Linked DNA regions of Homo sapiens: all the other regions are linked to region 2. Evidence: fine-mapped expression QTL. A gene starts in region 2. Each other region holds a variant in brackets. All regions are shown on one strand. Distances are between the middles of the regions.

Region 1 (8,000 bases), 690 kb after region 2:
CTGGGGAGCTGGTTAGTTCACCTCAAATACTACTTTTTTTTTTTGAGACAGAGTCCTGCTCTGCCACCCAGGCCGGATTGCAATGGCCTGATCTCAGCTCACTGCAACCGCTGCCTCCCAGGTTCAAGCAATTCTCCTGTCTCAGCCTCCCGAGTAGCTGGGATTACAGGCATGTGCCACCACACCCAGCTAATTTTTGTATTTTTAGTAGAGGCGGGGTTTCACCGTGTTGGCCAGGCTAGTCTCGAACTCCTGACCTCAGGTGATCCGCCCACCTCAGCCTCCCAAAGTGTTGGGATTACAGGCATGAGCCACCATGCCCAGACAGTACATTAAATCTCAATCTAATTGAAAGCCTCTGACAGGGCCATAAGGAGAAAAACTCATTTTCTTTCTTCTTATTTACATTTTGAGACAGGGTCTTGCTCTGTTGCCCAGTCCGGAGTGCAGTGACATGGTTCACTGCAGCCTTAGCCTCCTGGGCTTGGTTAATCCTCACACCTCACCCTCCCAAGTAGCTGAGTAGCTGGCATCACAGGCATGCACCACCACGACACACGTGCTACCACACCTGGCTAACTTAAAAAAATTTTCTGTGGAGACAGGCTGGTTGGAACTCCTGTGCTCAAGCAATCCTCTTGCCTCGGCCTCCCAAAGTGCTGGGATTACAGGCGTGAGCCACCACGCCCAGCCTATGTAGCTATCTGTCTGTCTGTCTATCTATCTATCTATCTATTTATCAATCAATCATCTATCTATCTATTGAGACAGGGTCTCACACTGTCACCCAGGCAGGTGTACAGCGGCACAATCATAGCTCATTGCAGCATCCACCTTCTGGGCTCAAGCAATCCTTCCACCTCAGCCTCTCAAGTAGCTGGGACTACAGGCACACACCAGCACACCCAGCTAGTTTTTAAATTTTTGTAGAGATGGGGGTCTTGCTATGTTGCCTATGCTAGTCTTGAACTTCTGGCTTCAAGTGACCGTACCACTTCAGCATTCCAAAGTGCTGAGTTTACAGGCATGAGCCACCACACCCGGATGAAACTGGATATTTTCATGATTTACATTCACTCACATCAAATCAGCTTCTTCTCAGGCTTTTTTCCAAGTTAACATTTAGTTATTGTTTACCAAGCAGTTGAAATTGCTATGTGTCCCTTACTCCTTCTCATTCTCCCACCATTCAATCCAAATCTGTGTCAGATTTTGCACGTTAGAATTAGAGGTGCCCACTGAAAAGAACTGAGACTCTAAGAACTGTGAGCTTTTTTTTAAATTCACTGTTGAATTCCCAATGCCAACACATTGCTTGGCATGCAGCGGATACCCAAGAAAGGCAGGCAGGCAGGGAACAAAATATTGTCTGGGAAGCAGACTTAAAGCAAACCTGAAAAGGCTGTCTCTTCTTCCTACTTATTCTGAGTTGGAGTTTCAAAAGAAGTTTGGTATAATGATCGGTTTTGGTTTTGTGTTTTTTGATGATGGTGGTAGGTGTGTGTTAGTTGCAACTAGACCCATGTATTTCTCTTCGGGAGTCTAAGGACATGAAAATAAGAGTGTCCAGAATGTTTTGGGTGGGAATGCACAATTTAATTCTCTGGCTGACTAGATTGATGTACATGCCTTCCTGGGCAGCAGAGATTTTATGTTGGATTGCAGTGTATTGAGCACTTGGACCCATCCTCATAAAAGCCATACATTTCTCTGCCTCTGCCCCCTCACCTGCACACTCCTCTGCCAGGAAACTAGGGAAAGCATTTTGTGGGAGATGTTTTGGAGCTAAAGTTTTTCTTCTGGCTCAGAGAAAACTGCAATAAACTCTGGCAATAACTAGCTCCAGGAAGGGCAGGAAATGACACATGTCCCCACTGCAGCAGCTTTTGTTCAAAAAACTGAGTGACTTCATGATATGATCACGTGTGCTGTGGAATGTATGCACTGAACCAAAAGCTGCTCATCATGAGTTTTTTTTTAAGCAAACATTATTAGATAAAGCTAAAACATTTCAGTAGTTTTGTCTCAAGGCCAACTCATGGTTTTTTGTTTGTTTGTTTGTTTTTGAGATGGAGTCTCGCTCTGTCGTACAAGCTGGAGTGCTGTGGCGCAATCTTGGCTCGCTGCAACCTCCACCTCCCGGGTTCAAGTGATTCTCCTGCCTCAGCCTCCCGAGTAACTGGGATTACAGGCGCGTACCACCATGCCTGGCTAATTTTTGTTGTATTTTTAGTAGAGATGGGGTTTCACCATGTTGGTCAGGCTGATCTTGAATCCCTGACCTTGTGATCTGTCCACCTCAGCCTTCCAAATTGCTGGGATTACAGGCGTGAGCCCTGTGCCTGGCATATGTTTAAAAGTTGATTGGACAGCTTTGTACAGTGACAGGATTATAGCCAATGAGGCATGATTATTGCTAATTGAAAACTTTTCCCAATACCCTGGCATTGGCAATTTTTGACAATCTCTATGGAGACTGAACTTAAAAAACAAAAGTTGATTGAAAAAAAATTTTTTTTTTTTTTTGAGATGGAGTCTTGCTGTCGCCCAGGCTGGAGGGCAGTGGCACGATCTTGGCTCACCGCAACCTCTGCCTCCCGGGTTCAAGCAATTCTCCTGCCTCAGCCTCCCAAGTAACTGGGATTACAGGCGCATGCCACCACACCCAGCTAATTTTGTATTTTTAGTAGAGACAGGGTTTCGCCATGTTGGCCAGGCTGGTCTTGAACTCCTGACCATAAGTGATCCATCTGCCTCAGCCTCCCAAAGTGATGGGATTACAGGCATGAGCCACCGTGCCTGGCAAGATTTCAAATTTCTGTACGAGTTTGGAAAAGGCATAACACTACCAATGACTTATTAGGAGTCTACTACATTTACTAATTCCTTCCTTTTTGAATTCCTATAACATTTCCAGTTTGAAGCATATGACTTATTACTTTAAGACTGACCTCTAGCTGTTTTATATATACAAATTTTATTTATTTTTTTGAGACGGAGTCTTGCTCTGTTGCCCAGGCTGGAGTGCAGTGGCATGATCTCAGCTCACAGCAAGCTCTGCCTCCCAGGTTCACACCATTCTCCTGCCTCAGCCTCCCGAGTAGCTGGGACTACAGGCGCCCGCCACCGCGCCTGGCTATTTTTTTTGTATTTTTAGTAGAGATGGGTTTCACCATGTTAGCCAGGATGGTCTCGATCTCCTGACCTCGTGATCCACCTACCTCAGCCTCCCAAAGTGCTGGGATTACAGGCGTGAGCCACCGCACCTGGCTACATATATAAATTTTATCTAAGCTCCAGAGCAGGAATAACATATATATATTTTTGGTGTATATATATATACAATATACATGTACAAAAAAAATATATATATACACTTTTTTTTTTTTAAATACAGAGTCTCACTGTTGCCCAGGCTGGAGTGCAGTGACACGATCCTGGCTCACTGTAACCTCCGCCCCCTGGGTTCAAGTGATTCTTGTGCCTCAGCCTCCAGAGTAGCTGGGATTACAGGTGTGGGCCACCACACCCAGCTAATTTTTTTTTTGTTTTGTATTTCAGTAGAGATGGGGTCTCACCATGTTTCTCAGCCTGGTCTC[G/A]AATTCCTAAGCTCAGGCAAACTGCCTACCTCCACCTCCCAAAGTGCTAGGATTACAGTCATGAGCCACTATGCCAGCCCGTATTCTATATTCCTCTGAATCCTTCACAGCTCTTTAAAACAGTGCTTAATACATGGAAGAGGCTTATAAATACTTCACCTGAAATTCCATTACTTATTCTAACAGAGGTTACATTAGAAAATGGAATGCCATTAAGTATGAGTAATTTAATCAAAGAGGGGAACAATTTTTTTTTTTTTTTGAGATAGAGTCTTGCTCTGTTGCCCAGGCTGGAGTGCAATGGCGCAATCTCAGCTCACCACAACCTCTGCCTCCCGGGTTCAAGCAATTCCAATTCTCTGCCTCAGCCTCCCGAGTAGCTGGGATTACAGGCGCCCACCACCACGCCCAGCTAATTTTTGTATCTTTAGTAGAGACAGGGTTTCACCATCTTGGCCAGGCTGGTCTTGAACTCCTGACCTCGTGATCCACCTGTCTTGGCCTCTCAAAGTACTGGGATTACAGGCATGAGCCACTGTGCCCGACCAGGGGAATGATTTTTTAAATCAAGTGAAGAAAAAAAAAAAAAAGAGACGGAAAGAAAAATGGAATGCCACTCCTCCAGTACCTGTTTCTAGTGGACACTGACAGTTACTGACCATTCAAAAATGTTAAATAGGCAGGGTGCAGTGCTCACACCTGCAATCCCAGCACTTTGGAGGCCAAGGCGGGCAGATCACTTGAGGCCAGGAGTTTGAGACCAGCCTGGCCAACATGGTGAAACCCTGTCTGTACTAAATATACAAAAAATTAGCCAGGCGTGGTAGCACATGCTTGTAATCCCAGCTACTTGGGAGGCTGAGGCACAAAGATCACTTGAACCCGGGAGGCAGAGGCTGCACTGAGCTGAGATGGTGTCCCTGCACTCCAGCCTGGGCGACAGAGTGAGACTGTTTCAAAAAAAAAAAAAAACTTAAATAATAATGAGGACATAAAAATCCACTCTTGGGCCAGGTGAGGTGGCTCAAGCCTGTAATCCCAGCACTTTGGAAGGCTGAGGCAGGAGGATTGCTTGAGGCCAGGAGTTTGAGACCCGCCTCTACAAAATATGTAAAAATTTGGCACGGCATGGTGGCATGTGCCCGTAGTCCCAGCTACTGAAGAGGCTGACGCAGGAGGATCTTTCACTTAAACCCAGGAGTTCAAGGTTACAGTGAGCCATGATCACACCACCGCACTCCAGCCTAGCAGACGGAGACTGTCTTTTTTAAACCAAAGACAGGCGAGATACAGTGACTCACACCTATAATCCCAGCACTTTGGGAGGCCGAGGAGGGTGGATCACTTGAGGTCAGGAGTTTGAGACCAACCTGGCCAACATGGCAAAACCATCTCTAATAAAAATACAAAAATTACCTGGTCGTGGTAGTGCGCACCTGTAATCCCAGCTACTCAGGAGGCTGAGATGGGAGAATCACTTGAACCTGGGGGGCAGGGGCTGCAGTGAGCCCAGATCACACCACTGCACTCCAGCCTGAGTGATAAGAGTAAGACTCTGTCTCAAAACAAAAAAATCCATTTGTTTAACGTTCAAATTAGGTCCTCTCTACCAACACTGGTGGCCATTTACAGTAATGGAGATTAAATGACCTTCAGGTAAAAAGTTATCATTCTTGGCTGGGTGCGGTGGCTCACACCTGTAATCCCAGCACTTTGGGAGGCTGAGGCGGGTGGATCACAAGGTCAGGAGATCAACACCATCCTGGCTAACATGGTGAAACCCCATCTCTACTAAAAAATACAAAAAATTAGCCAGGTGTGGTGGCGGGCGCCTGTAGTCCCAGCTACTTGGGAGGTTGAGGCAGGAGAATGGCGTGAACCCAGGAGGCGGAGCTTGCCGTGAGCCGAAATCGCGCCACTGTACTCCAGCCTGGGCGACAGAGCGAGATTCTGTCTCAAAAAAAAAAAAAAAAAAAAAATCATTCTTTCACTTTTCATTTAGTGTATTTACTTATAACAACTTTAAGTAACCCTTGATCAGGTAGCAAATGTGCTGTCATTTTCCATATGTGTTTTTCCTGTCTCCTCCCAAGAGGTAATCTCTTCAAATGAAGGGGGATTCCATGGCATGCTCCCTAGCACTTGACATGGGTGTCTTGTTCATGGTGGGCACTCAAATTTTTTGAATTCATATTTTCCAGAATATCACATCTCATGGTTATGTTTTTCTGAAAACAACTCTTTTGCAATGATTCCAAAAACTCTACCCACTGATAGGGAAGCAAAGGAAAGCCCAAGTTGTTTAAAAGTTTTGTATTATGTCATACAAACTGTCTTCACATACAAGTGCATTAAAAAAATTATCCCCCCCTCCTCCTCCCCAAACATCACAGTAGACCAATTCTTGCTAATATATGACAAAGTTAAAACATATGTCCCCTCTGAATTCTAAACAGCTAATTCTAGACACTAACATCTGGATCTTATAATTTACCGGTCTGGTATGGACATGAACAGTTCCAGTGCCTTTCAACTTATCCCTGAATTTTTCTCTTCTCAAAGTTCTAGGCAGTAATTTTAATGCCCTCAAATTAGATAAAGCTGATTACTTAGAGCTTATAAATTAGCTACACTTTATGACACTAAGAATAGAGCTATGACTTATGCATATCATACCTGTCAAGCTACCTAGCACCACGAATAGAACTAATATTAATGGATGGACTAATACAAGGATCTAATATATGACAGTGATAGTCTTAAAAACACCGATTTGTTATTTTCCTTATATATAATCCAAATTCCTTTCTATCCTTCTGGCAATGTTTCTACTGCCTGACTACCTTAAATAACTATATAGTGTCAATTTCTTGCTTGGGCCAGGTGGTGGCTCATGCCTGTAATCCCAGCATATTGGGAGGATTGCTTGAGCCTAGGAGTTCGAGATCAGCCTGGGCAACATAGTGAAACCTCATCTCTATTTAAAAAAAAAAAAAAAAAAAAAAAAAAATATATATATATATATATATATATATCTCTTAATGTTAATAACAATTCCCTAGGTCACTAGTAATAAGAAGCTATGGGCTTTAAACTTAAAAGGTGCTAAACCAGTTTAAATGTAAAACATTCTCATAATAGAATTGCACTGTATTTCTTTTCTACTTTGATGCTTTTCCAAAGTGCTATAGTTCCTGTGAGATTTGTGTCCTGCACAGAATCAAATGCTAGGTCTTTCACTTTTGGATGGCTGAGTACCATAAAACATGATTTATTTGGTAACAAAAATGTTTCCAGGAGTTTAAAAAGGGACCACTACTCAGAGCTAAAAAAGTTCTAACAGTCACTTTTTAAAAAAGCTAGTTTATCATTTGTTTATAAAGAAAAACACAACTCTGTCCTACTTCCTCTAATAAAAATGGAAAATATTAAGATGAGCTGTGTGCTTATAAAGAGGTGCTACACAAGTCATCTTACGTTTCTAGTCAACACAAACATTGCTTCAGTGACACTTAATATTCAATACATGATGCATTACTCTTAGCATTTTTGCATTTACTCTCCGCATATAACAAGGTCAGATATCAAAACAGTCCTGATCTTAGACAACTCACTACCAATATTTAAAGCTGTTTCCTCCTAGGACTACAGTTCCTAAACTATGCACAGGGAGCAAAGTGGTATTCCCTTAGGATAAACTTGGTCAAGGCTCAGATAACCCTGAGATGAACTTAGCAAAGTCCTTGTAAAGAAATCTTCAGATGGGAAACTCCACCTATGTGAATTTTAAAGCTTTAAGACTGACCCATTCAACAGAAATAGCAGATTTTCTCAGAGCACTGAGTCTAGTGATTGTCCACGTCAAGGAGGCACACACACAATTTTACCCACACCCCTGATGTCTCTTCTGTATGGAAAATGCAATCAGTGATGAAGGGCCGAAAAAACATCTTGCCAGCTGTAGCTCTTTTACAGAGCACAAAGTGGGAGGAAGCAATGAATATAAATGTGTTGGTGTGTGCGTCTGTGGGGAAAAAATAAACCTGTACAAGGCAATGGCTGATCCAACTATGAATTTTGATTAAACACGTTTAGTAATACAGTTATGATTCCCAAAATGTCTACCTTTGAAGGTAAAAAAAAAAAGAAAACCCTGAAATGAAGAGTAAAATAAGGTTCCCAGGAGAAACCTTCATCACATTTTATGCTTCTGGCTGTTCTCACTTATCCCGGTGAATTTGGGCCAAATGTGTACTTCTTAGAAAAGCGAAGCTTGTACTGAGAATACTGTTCTGAACCTACCTTTTTAAGTCCCTGCAAACATATAGCCCAACTTTCCCAAATCTCACCACTCCATAGTCTGCAACAGGTGTCAGCCTCACAGGTATCTGCTGAAATTTG
Region 2 (8,000 bases):
CTGGAGAAGGATGGGGAGGAGTCAGCACTTGACATCTGCCACCCTACCCCAGAATCAGTGCCACCCTTCGCCAGCCCACCCAAACCTGGTCTCGTATATCATCCCGCAGCTCCACCAGGATCTGGTTGAAGAGGGTGAGTTGGGTGACCAGCGCCTTGGTCTGCTCCCCTGTCGGGACCCAGGGTGTGAGGGGTTCAGTACTGGAGCACCAGTCCTGGGCCCTCCATGGGCAATAAGCCAGTACCTGCCACGGCTGCCCACCCCTGCCTTTAAACCTACTACATTCCTGACTGAAGAGGACTTAGTTTCAGGCAGCTGCCAGAGCCTGGGGCCTCCTCCCCGCTCCCCGCTTCCGCTTCAGTGTGGCCTACTCACCTAGAATGGAGTGCAGTGCATTGGTCACTGGAGAGGAGAAGAAAACATAGTCAGAGGGGTGAGGTGAAGTGAAGAGAGGCCTGGTTGGTGAGAAGGAGGAAGGAAGGTGAGGACAGGGACAGGGCTGGAGCCCCAGAATAAAGATGGGGTGCTGGATGCTGGGAGGGCAGAGCTGGCAGACAAGCAGTGCCAGCTCCTTCTATGGGGCAAAAGGCCCTCTAAGGGAGTTGCTTCACAGGAAGTTAGAACCCAAATCCTCCTGGTTCCTAGGCATGGTAGTGGCAGAAGGGATGGACCCAAAGCAGGGCCAGGGCCCCAGTATATCCCCATTTTTTTTTTTTTTGAGTCGGAGTCTTGCTCTGTTTCCCAGGCTGGAATGCAGTGGCGTGATCTCTGCTCACCACAACCTCCACCTCCTGGGTTCAAGCAACTCTCCTGCCTCCGCCTCCCAAGTAGCTGGGACTACAGGTGCCCACCACCATGCCCAGCTAATTTTTTGTATTTTTTAGTAGAGAGGAGGTTTCACAGTGTTGGCCAGGCTGGTCTTGAACTCCGGACCTTGAGGGATCAGCCCACCTCAGCCTCCCAAAGTGCTGGGATTACAGGTGTGAGCCACCACACCCGCCATCCCATTCCCTTCTTCAAGAGCTCTCCCTCAAATATCTGGGAAAGGTGGGTCTTTTATTTAGGTGAGAGCTTCTGAACATCCCTGTCAGAGAGACCAGGCAGATGGGCAACACTCAGAGAAATTGCTGGTGACAGCTGCCAGTGAGAACTATAAAAGACTCGAGACCAGGCCGGGCGCGGTGGCTTACGCCTGTAATCCCAGCACTTTGAGAGGCCGAGGTGGGTGCATCACTTGAGATTAGGTGTTTGAGACCAGCCTGGCCAACGTGGTGAAATCCCATCTCTACTAAAAATGCAAAAATTAGCTAGGCATGGTGGAGGGCGCCTGTAATCCCAGCTGCTTGGGAGGCTGAGGCAGGAGAATCACTTGAACTCAGTGGAGACTGCAGTGACCCAGATTGCACCACTGCACTCCGGCCTGGGCAACAGGACAAGACTCCATCACCAAAAAAAAAAAAAATACTCGAGACCAGTATCTCTTGGTCAGCCAAGGCCAAGCAATTAACCAATTCTTCTCTTAGATCACTTTTTTTCTCGGATGGGTGTATTGGAGATTGTGGAGTCAGGTGAAAGATTTGGAATAACAGGGTTAGAAACCCTAGGAACAGGTGAGCCAAAGGAATGGGTTTTAAGGGAGAGGGAGATCAAGAAGACAGGAGTCACCAAAGGCCACAGGATCCGTGGTCCAATGTCAGCAAACAAGTCTCTGTGTTACCTGCACTGTGGATGGACTCGTCCCCTTGGAATGGACACTCACTCAGGGCTCCTACCCGGGCCATGGACCCACCCAGAATAATTTTCATAGATTCCACAAAGCCCTGGGGGGATAGCAGCAGAGTAAGGTGGGAAGGTCTACCAACCCCTTCCCCAGCTGGTGCAAACTCTATTTCCACAGAACTCAGAGGCTCCTCCCGGCTCACCTGCATCCTCAAATACGCCTTCTGTCCAGTCCTAATCTCCAGCCCATCGACCTCCGCTGGAGGAATGGGGGCCAGTGCTGGAAGGCCTGCATGTTGGTCACCCAGTTTGCAGTCCACGTAGAGATGTAGGGCAGGGCTGGGTCTGGAGGGACCTCGGAGTCGCAGGAGAACTGTGTGTGTGCGCCCATCAGCCAGGCCCGCTTGCTGTAGGTTCACGGCGTGGACTTTGCCATCCTCCCGCTGGTATCGCACCAGTACTGCCCAGGAGGGGAGATCAGTATGGGCGCTATCCCCCACCCCCTGCCTCCCAGCTGAGCCTTGGATCAACTCTGCTAGATACCACATCTCTAGGGCCCCTATCCCTAATTCTACTATGTGGCTCTCAACACCTTGTATTTAATAGGTACACAATAAATGTTTTTGAAATTGCTTTAGAGGCCAGGCACGGTGGCTCACACCTGTAATCCCAGCACTTTAGAAGGCCAAGGTGGGCAGATCACTTGAGGTCAGAAGTTCGAGAACAGCCTGGTCAACATGGCGAAACCCTGTTTCTACTAAAAATACAAAAGTTAGCCAGGCATGGTGGTGGGCACCTGTAGTCCCAGCTACTCAGGAGGCTGAGATAGGAGAATTGCTTGAACCCAGGAGGCAGAGGTTGCAGTGAGCTGAGATTGTACCACTGCACTCCAGCCTAGGTGACAAAGCAAGACTCCATTTAAAAAAATAATTGGTTTAGAGACAAATACTTTCTTAGTCTTCATTGGTATCAGATGACTGTATCCTCTCCTAGGGTGACAGCTGGTTTTGTGGCCACTGACCTGTTCCAGGGATCTGAAAGACCTTTCTGTATCACCGCTGAGGCACAGAGACATGCCTCACCCTCCTTCCAGGCATCCCCAAGTACAACCTCCCATCCCTATAAATATCAGGACTCAAGCCTCACCCTATTGTTTGGTACATGGGCTCCTAAAGCACCTTATAAGCACCCCATACCAGGTGCCCCTGATGTCTGGGCACAGCCTGATGGGACCTTGGTCCCTAGTGGAGGCCAAGGAGAATGAGGAAGCACTTGGGAAGTAGGGATGAGGGAGAGTGCTTAAGGAGGTCACCATTGCAAGAAAGGAGATGCCCACCAGTCACCTTTGTTGATCTTGCCTACAACAGAGGCCTCCAGCCATCGAGTGTTGTCTTGGCGAGAATAGAGGCCAAAGAGGACACCACCCTGCTTGGGGGGCAGGCGGAAGGTGGATAAGAGGTAGATGTCCCCAGCAGTGAGCAAGGCTGTCCGGATCTTCTCTGCCACAGCTACCATCTGCCGAGACTCGCCCACAGTCAGCAGGTCAATTACTGGTCAGGCAGGGGTTATCAAGGTTAGAGAATGGGATCAAATGCTAAGGTATGCCCTCCCCCGAGCCCACATCACCCCCTACCCCCACCACCAGGCAGCGTTAGTCACCTCAAAATTCAACCCTTGGCTGGGCATGGTGGCTCGCACCTGTAATCCCAACACCTTGGGAGGTTGAGGCAGGTGGATCGCCTAAGGTCAGGAGTTCGAGACCAGCCTGGCCAACACGGTGAAACCCCGTGTCTACTAAAAATACAAAAACAACAACAAAAAAGAAAAAAAAACCACCTAGCCGGGCGTGGTGGCGGGCACCTGTAATCCCAGCTACTCAGGAGGCTGAGGCAGGAGACTCGCTTGAACCTGAGAGGTGGAGGTTGCAGTGAGCCGAGATCGCGCCATTGCACTCCAGCCTGGGCAACAAGAGTGAAACTCCATCTCAAAAAGACAAAACGAAAACAAAAAAAAACCTCAACCCTTGTTGCTCTCAGAGGACAGAGGCACTGTGCCTTCCTTTCCCCATTATTGCCTATTACTACCTTCCAGGAACCTGCAGGTTTGAGACTCACTTGGAAACACAGAAACAGCACCCCACAAATTTGAGATGCCCCCACCAGGTGGCGCAAAGGAGATGCTGTGCTGATCCCCCACAGGAGTGGCACCTGGTGTCCACAACGTAGAAATGGAAGGCAGCTTCTCTTTCCACTCCTGGGTTTGGCTCGTTCCACACCCTAGTTCCCCTCCTCCCATCCTAGGGGCGCAGCACACTCGCTCTGGATAAGAACAGCTGCCCACTGAGGACTCTAACCCTCCCACCATCTGGGCTATCTCCCACGGGAATGTAGGACCCAGCTCCTCTGCCTCCTGTGTCCTGGCCAATCTGTGGTTTTCCCTCCAGCCAGTAAAGAATCTATGCCTGTGTCATCTGCTCCAGCTACCTCTCCCACATCCATCGGCCCATCCCACCACCAGACCTCCGGGAGAGCCCAGGCTTCTTGGTCCCCACCCCCGCCCTGTCCTTGGGCAGCCAGGAGCCCAGGGGGACGAAGCCCAGGGACCTACAGTACGCCCACCTTCAGGCTGCTCTCCCAGACCCTAGGGTGCCTACAGATGCTCAGGAACCACCCCAGCCAGGCAGCCTGAGCATCCAGTTCCTGAGTCCTCTGCCCTGGCCTCATGCCTGACCCTGTCCTGTTCCAGCTCCCCCACTACTCTCCGGTGCCCACTCCTCTCCACCAGGCCATAATTTCACCAACTCTAGGCAGTCTTAAGTTTTCCTCTGGCTCAATTTCTGGACTCTTCCCCTCTCCCCTTGCCCACATGTTCTCTGCTACTTGGGCTGAGGGCAAATGGGGAAGAAGCAGAGAGCGGTCTAAGAGGATGGAGACAGGCTTACCCTGCAGATCCTGACTGGCAGATGTGAAAAAGCAAAGGAGGAGAAGAGCCAGGGCCCCCCGAAGTTCCTGCGTCTCCATGCCTCTCAGCCGGCTCACTACCCCTGGCAGGCAGGCAGCTGGGAGGGGAAAAGGCTAGGCGGAGAGAGCAGGAGCCGGGGGGCGGAGGGACAGAATTGGAGGGGGGGCCAGCAGGCGGGTGAGGGGGGGCTGAAACAAAGAGCTGCCAATCACCCTGGAGGCATCATCAGCTCTGGGAACCAGGGGCACTGGGAAAGAATCCTGGAGGCCTCCCTGCTTTCTACCTCTCCCTAATGATCCTCCCCCAGGTGCCTCCCTCTCCGCAGTCATCATTGTTGGGGGTCTCGGCACACAGCGCTACCGAATGCCACTGTTTTCTGGAAGCCACGATTGTGGAAGGCAAGAACCCCTGGCAGGGGCAGTGCTAGACAGTGGGCATTATTCCACAGCTGGCAGGAAAGGATGCCAAGGGAGTGGCCGCAACTAGCTTGCTATAGTGCCCAGGGATGCCCACATGGCATGAATTTTGCTGTTCTGGCGGAGCAAGTGCTCTTTATTAGGGTGGGGGGTCCCCTGACAAGTGCCTGTTTCTCCATTTTCCCTCATTCGTAGGAAAGCTTGGGAGTCTGGAAGCGTCTGACGGGAACTGAAGGGAGAATCTAAAGCAGTGGTCAGTGAGGTCAGAGTGAAGAAACCAAAAAAGAGGAAAGGGACACCAGGGACAGGCGCAGAAGACCAGGGGTACAGGCGAGGAGCCAAGGACCAGACTGTGGAACACTGTGGGTACTAGCGGACGGGCCGTGACCCGGATGAAGCAGAGGGGCGCCTGAGTTCCCGTCACCTAAGCGACAGCCTGCGAGCCTCTCTTCCCCTCCCCCACCCAAGCCCCAGCCCGGCCTCCGCTCCGGCCGCCGCCACCGCCCCTGTTTTGTTTCCATGGCGACAGGCGGCGCAGGGCCCGCTCCAAACATAACGCGCTGTGGAAAACATGCTGCTCGGGGGACCCCCCCGCAGTCCCCGCTCGGGGACGAGCCCCAAGGGGCCCTGGAGCAGTACAGGCCACGTGCAGTTTGGCAAGAGCCCCCAGACCTGGCCCAGGCGCACAAGACCCCGCTCTCCAGAGCCTGCCGCGCCTTCAGGGGTTCGGGGCTCCACTTGGACGAGGCGCCGTGACTCTCCGAGGCGCGCCGGGCCGACAGCGCTGTCCCGCTACGTGGGCCACCTCTGGATGGGCCGGCGGCCGCCCTCCCCCGAGGCCCGCGGCCCAGTCCCCCGCAGTTCAGCTGCCAGTCGGGCCAGAAGAAGCCTCGCCTCCCCGGGGATCTCCCCAGGCCCCCTGACCGCAACGATCGGAGGGGCGGTGGCGGGGGGCGGGCCCAGGCAGGGGAGGGCAGAAGCACACAAGGAAGTGTTTCCGGGACAGAGGGTGGGCAAGATGGCGGCGCCCATGGAGCTGTTCTGCTGGTCAGGGGGCTGGGGGCTGCCGTCAGTGGACCTGGACAGCCTGGCCGTGCTGGTGAGGGGTGGCGCCGGCGCCCTCTGCTGTGCCCTGATGACTGGGGAGGGGGCCGAACTAGCCAAGCATCCAAACCTTGCCAGGGCTACTCAGCACGGGCGCAGTGGGGGAAACTGAGGCAGTCAAAGAGCGTACGTGGCCGATATGGCCTCAGTGCCCTATGCTGTAGTTTTCTAGGCTTAATGCAGCAATGAAAAGACGCCTGGTTGGGAGTTCAGGTGATGGGTTCTAGTCCTTGCTCATCCATTCACTGGCTGTGTGACCTTGCGGAGATCCTTTCTCTTTGGGCATTTTTTTTCTCCATTCGGAGGTTTACTAGGCTGGACTGTCTCAGGGACCTACTCTAGCTTGGAATTCCTGCCTTCTCCTCAGCCCCCTTCTCCTCTTCCTCCTCACTTAACAGCATTTACTGAGGCTATTGTTTGTTAGACCAAACGACTCACAGCCAGGCTTTGTATAAAGAGCTTAGCAATCAGACTTCCTTTGCTTCATTTATTCATTGACTCCTTGCTTTAAAGAGGATCTATTAGATTTCTTCCAAATATTAAACATTGCCAGGCAAAGATGAATAAAATTTGGTTCCTCCCTTCGAGTTTACAGAAAGGCAGATAGGTAAGCAAATAAATATAATAAAATATTCACATATAAGTTAAAGTAGGAACAGACCACAGATACTGCCAAAGAGAAGGGCATTATCAGTGCTTCCAAGAAGAGGGATACTGGTTAGGAAAAGCTTCTGAGGATAGATGTTCACCAGGTAGATGGCAAGAGAGGAGATAGAGGAAAGGATTTTCCTGGCTGTCCTGTAATCACAGACATGTCCGGAATCTCTCTGAGCCCTGTGTTGTCCATTTGTAAAATAGAAATGGTAGTGACTCCCCCTTTTTTTTCGAGACTAAGATACTAAGTATAGGGAATGGCACATAAGGTATTCAATAAATGTTATTTCTCTTCTTGATACCACTGTGGGGGACATGGCTCTGCCTCTCTGACTTCTGCTTCCTTCCCTGCAGACCTATGCCAGATTTACTGGTGCTCCACTGAAGGTACACAAGATCAGCAACCCCTGGCAGAGCCCTTCAGGTACCCAGTATCCCTTGGGGGTAAGGAAGGGTGTGTACAAGGGGAGAAGCAAGAAATAGGCAGGAATGTGTTGCAACTATGTATGACTAGGCAGCTAAGGGTCTGGTTGGTATACTTCCCTCTCAATATCAGGAACTCTGCCTGCCCTTCGGACCAGTCATGGAGAGGTCATCTCAGTTCCACACAAGATCATCACCCACCTTCGAAAAGAGGTAGGTGACTTGGATAGAGGGGGCTGCCAGTGAGAGAAGTTCAGTCAATTCTATACAATACACATTTATTGAGCACCAGATATATGCCATGCTAGATGCAGGTGACCCAGAGCATCAAGGAGCAACAGTCTTGTGGCAGAGACACACACAATGTCACTGTGATGTATTAAAGCAGTCGGCAAGAGATGAAACTTAGGGCACTGTGAGGCAGGGAGGGAGAGGAGCACAGGCTGAAGGAGAGTGGAAGACAGCAGTTGGCCTCTGATGGTGGGACTGGAGAGAGATTTCTAAGGGCCACTTCCTGTTTTCAGGGACTAGGTTGGGCTAGATATGGGGCTCAGGATGGACAAGGCTTAGAGCCAGGTTGGAGAAGATGAAAGAGCATTACTAGAGGAGTGGGGAGGCCTAGGCTATGCTCTTTACTCTGCCATTGACTATGTGATCTCGGGCAGGCCATGTAACCTCTCAGGGCTGTGCACTCCCTTATTTGTAAAACTAGAGGGCTGGGCC
Region 3 (9,002 bases), 500 kb after region 2:
GACCCGATCTCACAAAATAATCAAGTAGTGAGGAAATACTGAAGAATTTTAAGCAAGGCTTCAGTGGAGAAAATGTTTAAGTCTGGATGCTGGTAGATCATTTATTTTAATTTGGGTTCAAGATGATAGTGTCCTAGAACGGAAGCTGATTACACGTTCTGACCGTCATTTCTCATAGTGTCTATAACATAGGCAAAATAATAGCTCCAGTGTCCACAGGCACGCCTATGGAAAGAAGTGCATCTGGACCATGTCACACACTCCTTCCTCTCCAGTACCCAGCCTGCTTCCTAGTCCACAGCTCTTCCAGTAGTGGTTGTGCCGGGGAGCATTGAGAAGATCTGGGGAGCACAGTGGGGCAGGTCAAATACTATTGGAGTGACATTGCACTCTAGAAAAGGAGCCCTGAAATCCCACAAGTGAAAAGGCAGGCAGGCCAGTAGAGACCATCCCAGTCTTATTCACCACTATAGACTCTGTGTAGTGTGGGCGTGTGGAAGCATGTCATATGCTTCTTGAATGACTGAGTTTAGGAGTGCTTTGGCGTCTTCATTAAATAGTATGGCTGGGCAGGTGGCTTATGCTTGTAATCCCAATACTTTGGGGGGCTGAGGCGGGAGGATCACTTAAGGTCAAAATTTTGAGAACAGCCTAGCCAACATGGCGAAACCCTGTATCTACTAAAAATACAAAAATAAGCTGGCGTGGTGGCGGGCGCCTGTAGTCCCAGGTACTTGGGAGGCTGAGGCAGGAGAACTGTTTGAACTCGGGAAGTGGATGTTGCAGTGAGCCGAGATCATGCCACTGCACTCCAGCCTGGGCGACAGAGCAATATTCCATCTCAGAAATAAACAAACGAATCCAGTATATTTAAGGCCAAGTGCGATGGCTCATACCTGTAATCCCAGCACTTCGAGAGGCTGAGGTGGGAGGATCACTTGAGTCCAGGAGTTCAAGACCATCGCTGGCAACATAATGAGACTCTGTCTCTACAAAATAAAAAAGCCAGGCACAGTGGCACGTGCCTGTAATTCCAGCTACTTGGGAGGCTGAGGTGGGAAGATCACTTAAGCAGGGGAGTTCGAGGCTGCAGTGAGCTGTGATTGTGCCACTGTATTCCAGCTTGGATGACAGAGCAAGACCCTGTCTCAAGAAAAATAACAAATGTGATAAAGTTGAAGCAGAGCATGGTGGCTCACACCTGTAATCCCAGCACTTTGGGAGGCTGAGGCAGGAGGATCACTTGAGCCCAGGAGTTCAAGACCATCCTGGGCACCATAGCAAGGGTTATGTCTACCCAAAAAAAAAAAAATTTTTTTTTTAATATGCCAGGCAATGGCACCTATATTCCCAGCTACTTGAAAGGCTGAGGCAGGCGGATCACTTGAACCCAAGAGTTTGAGGCTACAGTGTGCTGTGATCTTGCCATTGCACCCCATCCTGGGCAATGGAGCGAGACCCTGTCTCAAAAAAAAAAAGAAAGAAAAAAAAAACAGAAAGGAAATAAAATGAAAGGAATTTATGTTATTCTCTCTCTCTTTTTATTTATTTTTAAATATTATTTATTTATTTATTTATTTTTTGAGATGGAGTCTTGCTCTGTCACCCAGGCTGGCATGCAATGGCGCAATCTCAGCTCACTGCAACCTCTGCCTCCTGGGTTCAAGCGATTCTCCCGCCTCAGCCTCCTGAGTAGCTGGGAAAACAGACATGCACCACCATGCCAGGCTTATTTTTTATATTTTAGTAGAGATAGGGTTTCACCATATTGTCCAGGCTGGTCTTGAACTCCTGAGCTCAGGCAGTCCATCCATCTCGGCCTCCCAAAATACTAGGATCACAGGTATGAACCACTGCACCTGGCCTCTTTTCATTTATTTATCTATTTATTTAGACCAGATCTGAGTGTATCATGCAGGCTGGAGTACAGTGGCATGATCATAGCTCTTTAACACCTGGCCTCAAGTGAGCCTTTTGCCTCAGCCTCCTAAGTAGCTACGACTACAGTCCTGCACCACCCTGGCAAACTAATTAATTTTTTTCTTTTGTTTGTGGAATTGGCGGTCTTACTATGTACCCAAGCTGGTCTCAAACTCCTGGGCTCAAGCAGTCTTCTCATCCCCGCCTCCCAAAGGGCCGATATTACAGGCATGAGTCACCATGCCCAGCCTATGTGATTCTCTTGACTGTACTATAAATTCCTTGACTATAAGATCAGGGACTATAATAGTTTGTTCACCATTCCATTCACAGAGCCTGACACACAGTAGGTGCTCAGTAACTGTTGGGTTAATTGGTTGCAACTCTATGGTTGTTATTATTGTTGCTTTAAAGATTTGGGTTGTGAAAGGTGTGTCTGGGTGCGGTGGCTCACGCCTGTAATCCCTTTGGGAGGCTGAGGTGGGAGGATCACCTGAGGTCAGGAGTTCAAGACCAGCCTGGCCAACATGGTGAAACCCCGTTTCTACTACAAGTACAAAAATTAGCTGGACATGGTGGTGTATGCCTGTAGTCCCAGCTATTTAGGCAGCTGAGGCAGGAGAATCGCTTGAGCCCGGGGAGGCAAGGTTCCAGTGAACTCCAGCTTGGGTGACAGAGCAAGACTTCATCGCAAAATAAATAAATAAATAAATAAATAAAATAAAATAAAGAAAGGTGAAAATGATAGCCAAGGGGGCCGGGTGTGGTAATTCACACCTGTAATCCCAGCGCTTTGAGAGGCCTAGGCAGGTGGATCACCTGAGGTCAGGAGTTCGAGACCAGCCTGGCCAACATGGTGAAACCCTGTCTCTACTAAAAATACAAAAATTAGCTGGGCGTGGTAGCTGGCATCTCTAACTTCAGTTACTCAGGAGGCTGAGAGGAGAATCGCTTTAACCCGGGAGGTGGAGGTTGCAGTGAGCCGGGATCATGCCATTGCACTCCAGCCTGGGCAACAAGAGCGAAACTCCATCTCAAAAAAACCAAAACAAAACAAACAAAAAAAATTTATAATAGGCCAGGCGCGGTGGCTCACGCCTGTAATCCCAGCACTTTGGGAGGCTGAGGCGGGAGGATCACAAGGTCAGGAGATCGAGACCATCCTGGCTAACATGGTGAAACCCCGTCATTACTAAAAATACAAAAAATTAGCGGGGCGTGGTGGTGGGCGCCTGTAGTCCCAGCTACTCGGGAGGCTGAGGCAGGAGAATGGCGTGAACCCGGGAGGCGGAGCTTGCAGTGAGCCAAGATCGCGCCACTGCACTCCAGCCTGGGTGACAGAGCAAGACTCCGTCTCAAAAAAAAAAAAAAAATTTATAGCCAAAATGAACTAATTAATTACATAGACATTTAATTCAGTTATTCCATAACTACTGGATATTGAGAGTTACATTTAAGTATTTTAAACCTCTTAGCTCCAAAAGATTCGGGCTTTTAAATTAGATATTTCCTGTATACAAAAAAATGAATATAATACACATGATATGAAAATAATAAATTCTCATGTATCCATTATCCAGTGTTAGTTTATTATCAGTTTCCTTGTGTGCCCTGCCCCAATCTTCTTCCCTTTTCTTCTCCCCAGGAGTAACCATTATTCTAAATGTTGTTTTTATCATTCTCTTGCTTTTTTGTTTCAGTTTTCCTATTTATATCCCCCAAATAATTAATGAAGCTTTTTGGTTTTGAATTTTATATGTTATGTCATGCCAGATGTAATAGCGTTCACTCAGTATTCATTTTTGAGATCCATGTTGATGCATGCAATGGTAATTTTTTCATTTAATTGCTTTCTAATATTCCATTTTATGACTGTCTCTATCTACTGTTCTACTAAGGGACATTAGTTTTTTCTACAGTTTTTTTATAATTCATACTCTGCTAGTATGAACCTCCTTATATATATTTCCCAGTGTACATGTAGAAGTTTTGGTTTTGGTTTTTGTTTTGAGACAGAGTTTCACTCTTGTTGCCCAGTCTGGAATGCAATGGCACGATCTCGGCTCACTGCAACCTCTGCCTCCCAGGTTCAAGGAATCCTCCTGCCTCTGCCTCCCGAGTAGCTGGGATTACCGGTGTGTACCACCACGCCCAGCTAATTTTTTGTATTTTTAGTAGAGATTGGGTTTCACCATGTTGGCCAGGCTGCTCTTGAACTCCTGACCTCAGGTGATCCACCTGCCTTGGCCTCCCAAAGTACTGGGATTACAGGCTTGAGCCACCACACTTTCAACTTTTTGTTTGTACATTTTCAACTTTGCAAAGATAGTGTATTTTCAACTTTGTTTTGTGCATTTTCAACTTTGCAAAGATAGTGTATTTATACTTTCATTGACATGTATGAAAGTTGAATACAATGTAATGTTTCGCAGCCTATTTAACATTTGCTATTGTCTGACTTTTTAATTTTCTTTTTCTGTTTTTGTTTTTTTTTTTTTTTTTTTGAGACAGAGTCTCACTCTGTCACCTGGGCTAGCGTACAGTGGTGTGATATCAGCTCACTGCAACCTCTGGATGCAAGCAATCCTCCTGCCTTAGCCTCCAGAGTAGCTGGGACTACAGGTGCATATCACCACTCCTGACTAATTTTTTTTTTTTTTTTTTTTTGAGACACAGTCTTGCTCTGTCGCCCAGGCTGGAGTGCAGTGGCATGATCTCAGCTCACTGTAAGCTCCGCCTCCCAGTTTCATGCCATTCTCCTGCCTCAGCCTCCCAAGTAGCTGGGACTACAGGCGCCCACCACCACACCTAGCTATTTTTTTGCATTTTTAGTAGAGACGGGTTTTCACCGTGTTAGCCAGGACCGTCTCGATCTGACCTCGTGATCTGCC[C/T]GCCTCGGCCTCCCAAAGTGCTGGGATTACAGGCGTGAGCCACTGCGCGTGGCCTCCGACTAATTTTTTAAAATATTTTTTGGTAGAGATGAAGTTTTACCATGTTGGCCAGGCTGGTCTCGAATTCCTGACCTCAAGTGATCTGCCCACCTTGACCTCCCAAAGTGCTGGGATTACAGGTATGAGCCATTACACCTGGCCTATTTTCTTTTTTTTTTTTGAGGTGGTCTCACTCTGTCATCCATGCTGGAATGTAGTGCATCTCAGCTCACTGTGACCTCCACCTCCTCCCAAGCTCAAGTGATCCTCCTGCCTCGGCCTTCCGAGGAGCTGGGACTACAGGCATGCACTACCATGCCCTGCTAATTTTTATATTTTTTGTAAAGACAGGGTCTCACTTTGTTGCTGAGGCCAGTCTTGAACTCCTGGGCTCAAGCAATCCACCCACCTCAGCCCCGAGAAGTGTTCCTCCCAAAGTGTGGGGATTGTACATGTGAGCCACTGTGTCCCGCCTGACTTTTTTATTTTCCCAGTATGATGATTGTGAATGGTATCTGGTTTTCATCATTTTAATTAGCATTTCCCTGATTTGTAATGAGGTTCAAAAATCTTTTCATGGGTTCACTAGCCTTTTGTGTTTCGTTTTCTGTGAAATGCCTGTTCATGCCTTTTGCTCATTTTTTTAATGAAGCTGTAGGCATTCTTTATATATTCTAGATATTAATATAGATTATTAATCCCTATTAATCTATTGTCAGTTTTCCATGTTGCACACATCTTTTCCCATTTGTGGTTTACCTTTTCACTTTTTTTTTTTTTGTAACAGTGCAAGGATGATGCTGAAAGGAATAACAAGGCTTATCTCTAGGATCCATAAGGTGAGTCCTGACTGACCTGAACACTCTGTGCATACTGCCTTTAGGTTCCCAGATTCTTGTTTTCAGATGGATTCATTGTATCTAGAGTGAAATGCTCTGGAAAACTTCATATGTAACAGGTTTCAGTAGAATAATTGTGCTTGAGAATTTACCATGGAATAGGAGAATTAATATTTTTCCAGAAAACATAAGTAAGTTTGACTGTAATTATCTTTATTAACTTTATTTCTCTAGCCAACTAGAGAATGGTTATCATCCCTTAATGAAGTATTTAAAAGAAAAACAAGTTGCCAATTTACAGCTTTAGCATCTAAAATAGAATAAAAAATAAAATTGTACATGAAAAAGACCATTCTGCTGGTTTACTTCATTTTTTCACATATTTACCAAATAGTTTTTCAGTACTTTTTTTTTTTTTTTTTTGAGACAGAGTCTCGCTCTGTTGCCCAGGCTGGAGTGTGCAGTGGCGCAATCTCGGCTCACTGCAACCTCTGCCTCCTGGGTTCAAGCTATTCTTCTGCCTCAGCCTCCCGAATAGCTGGGACTACAGGCGCTTGCCACCATGCCCGGCTAATTTTTGTATTTTTAGTAGAAACGGTGTTTCATCATATTAGCTAGGCTGGTCTCGAACTCCTGACTTCGTGATCTGCCCACCTAGGCCTCCCAAAGTGCTGGGATTACAGGCGTGAGCCACTGTGCCCGGCCTTCAGTACCTTCTATATGGCAGGTACTCAGAATTCTAAGATGCCTCATTTCACTAATAATAGTTATTATTTGTTGGGTATTATTATGTGCCAGGTACTACACTAAGTGATTTATTTTTTTAATCCTCATGATCAACCCATGAACGAGATAATATCCTTGTTTCACAGATGGAGAAACTAAAGATGAGACTGGCTAGGTAACTTACCTGAGGAAATAGCCTGTGAGGTTGCAAAGCCCACACGAGATGCCAGGTCTGTCTGACTTCAAAGCCTGTGGCCTAACCACTGTGCTCTATTGCATTTTATGGTCCATGTTCTCCAGAAGCTTACAGTCCAGTAGAATCATGAAAAAATGACTATTTCAGTATGGTGCTCTTACAGCACCAAAGAGGAGCACCTGAGCGGGATTAGTCGAGTCAGCAGGAGATCCTGAAAGGCTCAGAACTGAGCCAGAAAGACTTGGTCATTTTCAGCTGATTATTTAATTACAGATTAGATTTCCTAGAAAAGGAGCCCTTCCTCCTATATGGCTCCCCCTGCATGTGCCCCCTTCCCTCAGGCCTATATATTAATACATAAAATAACCCATTATTATAAAATGAAACGAAAGCAAGGATCAGCAGAGGGATGGATTCTGGACTCAACTGATCATATTACAAGGCTAAAATAAATTTCCTCTCTCGGCCGGGCACAGTAGCTCATGCCTGTAATCCCAGCACTTTGGGAGGCCGAGGCAGGCAGATCACCTGAGGTCAGCAGTTTGAGACCAGCCTGGCCAACATAGTGAAACCCCGTCTCTACTAAAAATACAAAAATTAGCTGCGTGTGGTGGCACACGCCTGTAATCCCAGCTACTTGGGAGGCTGAGGTAAGAGAATCGCTTGAACCCAAGAGGTAGAGGTTGCAGTGAGCCAAGATCACGCCACTGCACTCTAGCCTGGGCAATAGAGCGAGACTCCATCTCAAAAGAAAAAAAAAAATTTCCTCTTTCTTAATAACAGACAACAAAGACCTGAGGCTAGACTGTAGAGTGCTGTTGGTGAGAGAAAGTTTTGTTTTTTTTTTTTTACTAGTTTGGTTCAGGGTGACTGTATTAGTCAGGGTTCTCTACAGGGACAGCACTAATAGGATAGAAGTATATATGAAGGAGAGTTTGTTAAGGAGTATTGAGTCACACCATCTGGCGAAGTCCCACAGTAGGCCGTGAGCAAGCTGAGGAGCAAGTAAGCCAGTCCAAGTCCCAAAACTTCAAAAGTAGGGAAGCTGACAGTGCAGTCTTCAGTCTGTGGCTAAAGGCCTGAGAGCCCCTGGCAAATCACTGTTGTAAGTCCAAGGGTCCAAAAGCTGAAGAACTTGGAGTCCAGTGTTCGAGGGCGGGAAGCATCTAGCTCAGGAGAAAGATGAAGGCTGGAAGACCCAGCAAGTCGGCTCATCCTACCTTCTTCTGCCTGCTTTATTCTAGCTGCCCTGGCAGGTGATTAGATGGTGTCCACCCACACTGAGGGTGGGTCTGCGTCTCCCAGTCCACTGACTCAAATGTTAATCTCCTTTGGCAACACCCTCACAGACACACCCAGGAACAATACTTTACAGCCTTTAATCCAATCAAGTTGACGCTTAATATTAACCATCACGGTGATCTTCTAGATTGGCTCACAAATGCTCTTTCAGAAACTGCAGGATGTTCATTCTGGAACTGTACAGAGGCAATTGTACAGATGGTTGTTTTCTCTGGAAACAACAGTCTACTTGAGTGATAACATATATAAAACTTTAAGAACTAAAGATTCCATTTTGCTGTAGGCCAGGCATGGTGGCTTACACCTGTAATCCCAGCACTTTGGGAGGCCAAGGCAGGCAGATCACCTGAGGTCGGGAGTTCGAGACCAGCCAGACCAACATGGAGAAACTCCGTCACTACTAAAAATACAAAATTAGCCAGGCGCGGTGGCGCATGCCTGTAATCCCAGCTACTCGGGAGGCTGAGGCAGCAGAATCGCTTGAACCTGGGAGACAGAGGTTGCAGTGAGCCAAGATCACACCATTGCACTCCAGCCTGGGCAACAAGAGTGAAACTCCGTCTCAAAAAAAAAAAAAAAAAAAAAAAGATTCCATTTTGCTAGCTTTTAATTTGCTTCAAAAAGTACCTGTAGTTTCAGCTACTTGGGAGGCTGAGGCAGGAGGATCATGTGGGCCCAGGAATTTGAGACTGTCCGGGGCAATATAGCAAGACCCTACCCTATGTCAAAAAAAAAAGTGTAACAAAAATGTCATCACATTACTGTAGAAATAGGACCACCTTGTGACCCTTGAATAGTTTGTTTTCCACTCTGCTTTCTCTCCAGCTAAAGAGGCATGGTGCTTTCTCTCCGGTAGATAAAATTGAGTAGCGTTTAAGTAGTACTAGGGTGTGTTATTCAGATTGCTACCCTGAAGTAACAAGCCTTGTATTCTCAGTGGCCTAACACAAAGGATATTGTTTGTGTTGTGTGTATGTGTTTTGCTTTGTTTTTGCTGTTCCTGTCTTTCAAAAAGGCTTTGCAAGCAAGACTGAAGTCTGGATGGAGGGACAAAAGTTTACCTTCTTGGGATACATCGCAACATATAGC

What was found.
Region 1: its variant is fine-mapped to the expression of THBS3 in whole blood (INTERVAL, PIP above 0.99).
Region 3: its variant is fine-mapped to the expression of THBS3 in whole blood (TOPMed, PIP above 0.99).

Annotation. Positions count from the first base shown.
Region 1 is chr1:155,891,911-155,899,910 of GRCh38, forward strand. RIT1 (Ras like without CAAX 1) reads right to left here. Exons shown (of 6, transcript NM_006912.6): 6 at 5,898-8,000. It also overlaps the pseudogene LOC124904686. Among named protein-coding and RNA genes, the nearest start is that of RIT1, 15 kb to the right of the region's middle. The variant G/A (reference allele first, on the strand shown) is at 3,600.
Region 2 is chr1:155,203,138-155,211,137 of GRCh38, forward strand. It overlaps THBS3 (thrombospondin 3), which reads right to left and starts at 4,760. Exons shown (of 23, transcript NM_007112.5): 1 at 4,661-4,760; 2 at 3,063-3,269; 3 at 1,923-2,179; 4 at 1,718-1,820; 5 at 376-402; 6 at 86-168. The coding sequence starts at 4,739. It overlaps MTX1 (metaxin 1), which reads left to right and starts at 5,558. Exons shown (of 8, transcript NM_002455.5): 1 at 5,558-6,195; 2 at 7,209-7,278; 3 at 7,411-7,490. The coding sequence starts at 5,668. It overlaps THBS3-AS1 (THBS3 antisense RNA 1), which reads left to right. Exons shown (of 6, transcript NR_183238.1): 6 at 1,898-2,352. RefSeq lists an enhancer at 3,761-4,544 and a silencer at 5,908-6,107.
Region 3 is chr1:155,704,136-155,713,137 of GRCh38, forward strand. It overlaps DAP3 (death associated protein 3), which reads left to right. Exons shown (of 13, transcript NM_004632.4): 2 at 5,638-5,689. The coding sequence starts at 5,645. Among named protein-coding and RNA genes, the nearest start is that of DAP3, 20 kb to the left of the region's middle. The variant C/T (reference allele first, on the strand shown) is at 4,812.